Homo sapiens: one gene and its partner. The protein of the gene in region 1 interacts with the protein of each later gene in a biochemical or structural test. Each region holds a gene or a part of one and is shown on either strand. Other genes may lie near its edges.

Region 1 (3,500 bases):
AGAAGCCACCAGTGTTCTCAAGCTCCCCCTTCTTCCTCGCTGTCTCTGCTAGGTGAGGACACAACAAGAAAGCGCCGTCTGCCAGCCCGGAAGAGGCTCTCGCCAGCACCCGAGCACACAGCACCCAAACCCTGGCCTTCTGGCCTCCAGAGCCGTGAGGAGTAAACGTCTGCTGTTGCTGCCCCGGCCTGCGGTGCTTTGTGAGGGCAGTCGGAATGGACCATGATGGTCATCTCCCAAAGGTGCTGCAGCCTGCTTCCCCTGTTCCTGTCCGCGCCTCCCCTGCTCCTGTCTGCGCCCCACCCCGCTTCTGTCCGCGCCCCCACCCCGCTCCTGTCCGCGCCTCCCCCCGCTCCTGTCCGCGCCTCCCCCCGATCCTGTCCGCACCTCCCCCGTTCCTGTCCGCACCTCCCTGTTGGGCTTTTCTTTCTCCCAAAGCTCATCCCATGTGGCTCACTCCTGGGCTCCCCGTTCCTCACCTATCAGCTGCTGGACGCGGCTCAGCGGTCTTGGTGCCAGTGAGGGCCCCAGCAGTGCCTGGCACACGGCAGGAGCCTGGTGACCAAGCAGCAGGCATTTACTGTGTATCTGCTGCGTGCGGGACCCTGTGTGCCATTTCCCACACACTGTCCCCTCTGGGCCCTCTTAGGCGCACGGACAGAGGGTGCATCCTCCATCCCGGCGGCTGCCCAAGGGCCACTGGGCTGCTGGAACAGGCGGATGGTGCTGCAGCCACACCTGCCTCGTCCACCCAGGGCCCGAACGCAACAGGCTTACGGGCCCTCAGGCTCGCTGGCCTCTCACCCCTGCCAAGCTCTGTTCCCAGCACTACTGATGGGCCCGTTCCCCAGATGGGGACACTGAGGCACAAGTGGGTCAAGTCACTTGATCAGCTGGCCAGGGCTGGAGCCCACAGCCTAAACTGCAGGGGAGGTTATGCCATGCACATCCCTGACCCCAAGGCCACTCGTTGGGACGTTCAGGGGACTTCTCCCAGGAAGGCTGGTGGCATGCTCCCCCAGTAACTCTTGTGTACCGTGCTCACAACGCCCTGAGCAGGGCCCAGACGGTGGAGGGCTGAGAAGTACGGTCAGCAGGGCCGAGGGCAGTCGCACATCCTGTGGGACAGGCAGGGCCATCGGGGACAGGCCAAGGGCAGGGGGCGGTCCTGCAGGGCTCAGGGCCGGCTCCCTCCTCCCAACATGCCAATCATGCTGCCCGCACCAAGAGTGGCAGCAGAGCCTCCGTCCTGCCTGGCACCCTTGCTGGGGTGGGGGGTGGGCAGCCCAGGAGCAAGTGTGGGAGGCCCGGGCCTGTGCCCTCTGGCCAGGGAGGTGGGGGCTGGTTGCTGTCAGGGTCTCATAGAGGCCACACACCCAGAGGAGCTGGACAAGGGCAGTGGCTGGCAGGGTGGTGACCCCCAGACACACTTCTGGGGCTTCTCTGCTGGCTGGGGAGGGGCCAGCAGAGGGCGGTGAGATTAATACGCTGACTGAGCCGCGCCAAGGCTCTTTGTCCTCCAGCCGCACGTAAGTCTCCTTGTGTTTATCAACGGGACACCAAACCCACCAGCCTCTGCCACGCCCACCGCCCCCATGGACCACGCCCACAACAGCAAGGCCACGCCCCACCGCGTCCCCGCCGGGCTGAAGCCCCACCTCCAGACGACTTCCTCCTCCCTGCCCACACCCCGCTGGGCAGCGCCCTCCTGTGCCCCCAGCCCTGGCGCCCCCTCCGCACGGCCAGGCTCTAGCGCGGCTCTGCACCCCCCTCCCCTCCCGCAGCTCGCAGATCCACCCCGCCCTCCGCACCTGCCGAATGGGGAGGCTGCGTGGGTCCTTCCGTGGCGCCCCCAACCCGCAACGCCGGGTCCAGACTCCCGGCCTCAAGGCCCTGTCCCTGCCAGGCTCAGCTGAGCCGGGGTCTCACCCAGGGCCGCCCAGGCTCTAGGTGTGCAGCCTGCCTCCCACAGCGGCAGCCGGGCGGCGGCCCCAGCCAGGCTGCCGGGCTGCCCTGGGCGGGGAGGAGGACCCTTCCCCAGCCCTGGGGGAGGAGGCGTCCGGCCGGCTGGAAGGGGTCCCGCACTCGGGGCGGCACAGAGGAGCCAGAGAGGGACAGAAGCTGCATTGTTCCAGCGTCCTCCCACTCCGGCCCCCCTTTTCCTTGGCTCCAAGAAAGAAAACGTCGGGAGGACCCAGAGCCGCAGCCTCCGCGGAGCCTTTCCAGAGCTGCTCCCAGCCCTGCTGCCAGTTGCTGCTGGGGTCCCAGATGGTGGCAGTGCCGAGCCAGGGACACAGGAGGGTACTAGGGGTGCCGCAGGAGCTCTCGGCAGAGCTCCCCACCCTTAGGAAACCCCGGCCATGGGTAGAAATAGGCCTGGACATCCTGGGGGGCACATTCCAGCCCATCCCCTACCCACCCACTGCCATCGGTCACAGCACCTTGTCCCACGGACTCGCTGAGGGCCCCAGAGCCTCTGCTCCTTCCTCTGTCTTCAGCCTCTGCGGTGGCTGACATGCACCCCCAATTTCCCAGGAGAGGTCATCGTCAGAAACCCATGAGCACTGTGGCACAAAAACCCAGGGGATGGCTGGGCACGGTGGCTCACGCCTATAATCCCAGCACTTCTGGAAGCCGAGATGGGAGGATCGCTTGAGGCTGGGAGTTTGACACTGGCCTGGGCAACATAGTGAGGCCCTATCTCTATAAAAACATTTAATTATTAAAAATAAGATAAGAAAAAGAAACTCCGGCAGCCCAGCACCACATCCAAGCCTGGTGTTCCCAGCCTGGTCCTTAGCAGGCCTGGGGGGCACCAGGTACGTTCTGGGAGGCAGGCATCCCTTCTCGGGGGCTGGCAAACTCAAGACCTTTGGGAGTGGGGGACACATGGGTGGGGCAGCTGCTCCCCCCAAGCCTGCCCCTCACCCACCTGCCAGCCACCTCAGGAAGTCGGCCCAACCTGGCACCACCCCCCTGGCACCTATTAGTCTTTTCGCTTTGCAGGGGACGTTCTGTCCTGTGTCTGCAGCACTGCTGACCGGCATGGGACGACCAGCGGTCCATGAATGAGGTCACCACGGTGGCCTCGCATGGCCTTGGGCCTTGCCTGATTACTGCCCCAGGCACATAGGGCTCCCACAGCCCAGCCCAGCCCAGCCCAGCCCAGCCCTCTGGCTGATGCCCTCTCGCCTCCCAGCAGCCCTCTCCTACTTGGGTCTGAGGACAGAAGCCCTCCCTGCACCGAGGGCTCCAGGGGGAGGTGGGGGTGGAGGCCCTGGAGCAGCCAGTGGGGCAACAGGCGACCACCTCCTGTCCTTCATCCAGCAGCCCTGCAGCGCCACTCAGGATGCGGGTGGGAAGGGCTCAGGGTGAACCTCAGGCCTGTGCTGTCCCTGAGGCCAAGAAGAACTGGCTTGTAGGCGCCATTTTCTGGCGGCTGCCACCTCCGCCATGCTGGCCTGGCCTCGATCCCACCCCTCCGCAGCTCCTGATGCGGT
Region 2 (3,500 bases), on another chromosome or scaffold:
GAAGCAACTGTATATAATTTCATGATTAATAAACAAAACTCTTTAAAAAAAATGATGGCATTGACTACACAAAACATCCCAAAACTATAAACACCATTTGAAAATATTTGTTATATGCCATGCAAGGCAGCTTTTAAGAGCTCTTTACAGGCCAGGCACTGTAGCTCACGCCTATAATCCCAGCACTTTGGGAGGCCAAAGCAGGAGGATTTGCTTGAGCGTAGGAGTTTGAAACCAGCCTGGGCAATGTAGTGAAACCCCACCTCCACAAAAAGTCAAAAAAAATTAGCCAGGTGTGGTAGCCTGTGCCTGTAGCCCCAGCTACCTGGGAGGCTGAGGTGGAAAGGTCGCTTGAGCCCGCAGTGAGCCATGATTACACCTCGGCATTCCAGCCTGGGTGACAGAATAAGACCTTTTCTCAAAATAAACAAATAAACAAAAACACTTCAACTGCAAAATGCCACTGCAACACTTAATGAGTAATAATGTCAAAGACAAAAAGAAAACTAGAAAACAACTTAAGAATGCCTCACCCAAAAAACCAAAACAAAACCAGATGGGAGAGTGGGGGAGGTTATTAAAAAAAATTAGATGAAATGAAAATGTTTTTAATGGGCAAAGACAACAATTTTCAAACGAGAAAAATTTCTGCTCTCCTTTTACCAAATGGCTAGGAAAATATCAAATAATTAAGAATTAGCACCAATAGATTAGTTATTCACAAACCTCGACATAGGGAGAATTGTTCTTTCCTCATGATAATCACTGTCACATTCATTTATATATTCCCTTAAAACAGTTAATACTCGAACCATTCGAACAGCTTCCTGTCTTGCACAATTAACACTGTCTTTGTCACCATCCAAAACACACAATGTGTCATAGGAAGCCTTCAGACGATCAAAACAAGACTGAATGAAGTCTTCATGGATCACCACCTACAAATATCAGGCCAAATAAACACAGTTAAAATTGCTTTAAAATGTAAAAACCAAATATTAATCCAATTAAAGATGGCAATGGCTGATTTAATTGTAGCACTCAATTAACAACAGTCATATTTAAGTAGAGAATCCATACAATAATAAAATGTATGTTTATTAAAAGGAAGCTAGCATTACATAAGTTAACAAACATAAATTAGTCAAAAGTGAACTTCAGGATTAGGTGTTAGCATCAAAATGAATTCACATAGACTTTCTTTGCCATTTCAACATCTAATAAATAGTTATATTAAAAATAACCCAATCACTTCAAGACAACTAACAAGGCAAGATTCATTTAGATAATATTTTTTCTCTTTTGTATAAGAGAAATGGGGGCCGAAAGAATTATATATGGAAGTTTTAATGCACATCAATCCTCACCTGATTGACTTGTAGTCTTGGACCAAGGTTCGTGTATATCTCTTTGAGGAGATCTATAGCTCTGCTGGCAATATCATCATTACTCTGAATCACGACCTGGTTTCAAAATGATAAAAGTATTCATCCCTTTCAACATATATTTTTGTTGGGCATTTAAATTCAAACCATATCCTCAGTTATCTTAAACACACTATTCAATGATTTAATGGTAAGTTGACTTTGATAATCAAGTAAAATTAAGTGAGAAGCACAGACCAAAAGAAAGGGTAATAAATGCAAAATGAAAGTCTCTGAATAATTTAAGAATGAAAGGTACATTTTTGTAAAAATAAAATACGCTTTGACCACTATTATTTAACCCTATAATTTAATATCTTGATAACCAAGTGAGACACTCAAGAAGAAATTCAAATTAGTTGACAGGAAATAAGAGATTACATGAAACACAGTTTAGCATAAAGGACTACTCTACCCCCAGTTTCTATAAATCTTTATCACTCATCTAATTACATTAGTGGTTTCCAAACTATGTTCAGAACCCTAGGGGACTTTGAGGAAGTGTTTCAGTGTTGGCCCCTATAAAAGGGTTGGGGAGGGGAAAGGGGATAAGCATGGGGAGACCAAGTAAGAAAACATATTTTCCTTGTTCAATTCAGTTTACTTTTGTAGTGTGGTGCAAATTTTGAGTTTTAAGATGTGTTTCTGCTGTTAAAACAATGTTGAAAACCACATACTTAATTAAAAGCTTTTAAATACTCAAATGCCACAATAAACATCTTTATCTATGGTTTGCAGGAAAATATGTGAGACATCCAAACAATATAAACTGCTGTATAACAGGTCAGATTAAAGATAGGCATAATAGAGTAGTACTATAAAAATAGATTAGCCTTAAAAAGATAGTATTTTATTCCCCCAGGTATTTAAAAATATCACAAGGTAAACAGTGCCAATAAAGCATATACTCATAATCTATACTAAACACAAGTCCTCTCTTCTGTCCTCTATTTTAGTGTTAAACATTGAAGAGGAGGAAACAGATCGACACTGAATGAAAACTCGGGAAGGAACATTAATATCCACGGGGGAGGAATGAAAGATTTGTATGTTTAGTGCACATCTATGGAATACACAGATACTAAGCTAAGACAAAAGGAACATCAGTGGCAGGAGGAGGGAGAGGAAGAGAGAAGAAAAAGCCCACTGACAGGTGACATAATAAAAATGAACAATTCCTAACTACACCAAATTCCTGAGACAAACATCAGAGTAAAATACACAATTTATATGCAAAATTACAATTCCTTACGTACATGAAAAAGTACATCAGACACCATTTACAGAGTTCCTACTTTTGACTTACCCTCCAAAGGTAATCTAATCCTATTAACTCCAAGTCATCCATCATATAGGCTCTCCTTTTTGCTACTAGTTTTCCTTCTCGACAATTCACAGCTTTGAAGAATCGCTCAAAACACTTCATTCCATTTTCAGTTAACAGAGAAGGATCAAGCTGAAGCACATTACTTTCAAAGAAGTCCTTATTAATATCAGGATCTAAGTCTGGTTCATCCCCCATCAACTTGGAATACCACTTAAAACAGGCTTCACGATCACAAAGGTAAACTGCATTCTCAGCTAAGCATTTCCATATTTGTTTTGCCTGAGGAGCACATAGCCACAGCTGACCATCCTTCAATAAAAATCTTGAAAAAACATTGAAAATTGGCAATTAGATTTATGTAATTTTTATCCGGAAAGGCAATCTGTATTACCTATAAAATACATTTATCACCATTATATTTTAACTATAGATAAAAAGATATTCATTCTTTCAAAATAACCTATTTCTCTACTTTTATCTGGTACTAAAAAAAAATCCCCACTAGATATTAATTAATTCAACAAGCACACACTGAACACCCACTTTGTGCCTGAAATGCAGCTAGCTGAATTAGGAATAAAAGATTCATTCCATGAACCTTTAGTTTTTGAAACCAGACTTTTGGAAAGAAGCATGTTTAGTAGCTTGAGTTAAAAATAAAAGACTTAGGCTGGGCACAGTAACTCACGCCTGTAATGCCAGCACTTTGGGAGGCTGAGGTGGGCGGATCACCTGAGGTCAGGAGTTTG

The links.
Region 2: the proteins of GPSM1 (region 1) and USP9X form a complex in vitro, tested with the Homo sapiens proteins (one study listed by BioGRID).

Annotation. Positions count from the first base shown.
Region 1 is NC_000009.12:136,341,039-136,344,538, reverse strand, and holds part of GPSM1 (G-protein-signaling modulator 1), read right to left. Parts: coding exon of another isoform or gene 3,379-3,500; exon of another isoform or gene 2,701-3,378; intron 1-2,700. UniProt on the Homo sapiens protein: Guanine nucleotide dissociation inhibitor (GDI) which functions as a receptor-independent activator of heterotrimeric G-protein signaling.
Region 2 is NC_000023.11:41,165,445-41,168,944, reverse strand, and holds part of USP9X (ubiquitin carboxyl-terminal hydrolase 9X), read right to left. Parts: intron 3,074-3,500; coding exon 2,731-3,073; intron 1,464-2,730; coding exon 1,368-1,463; intron 939-1,367; coding exon 727-938; intron 1-726.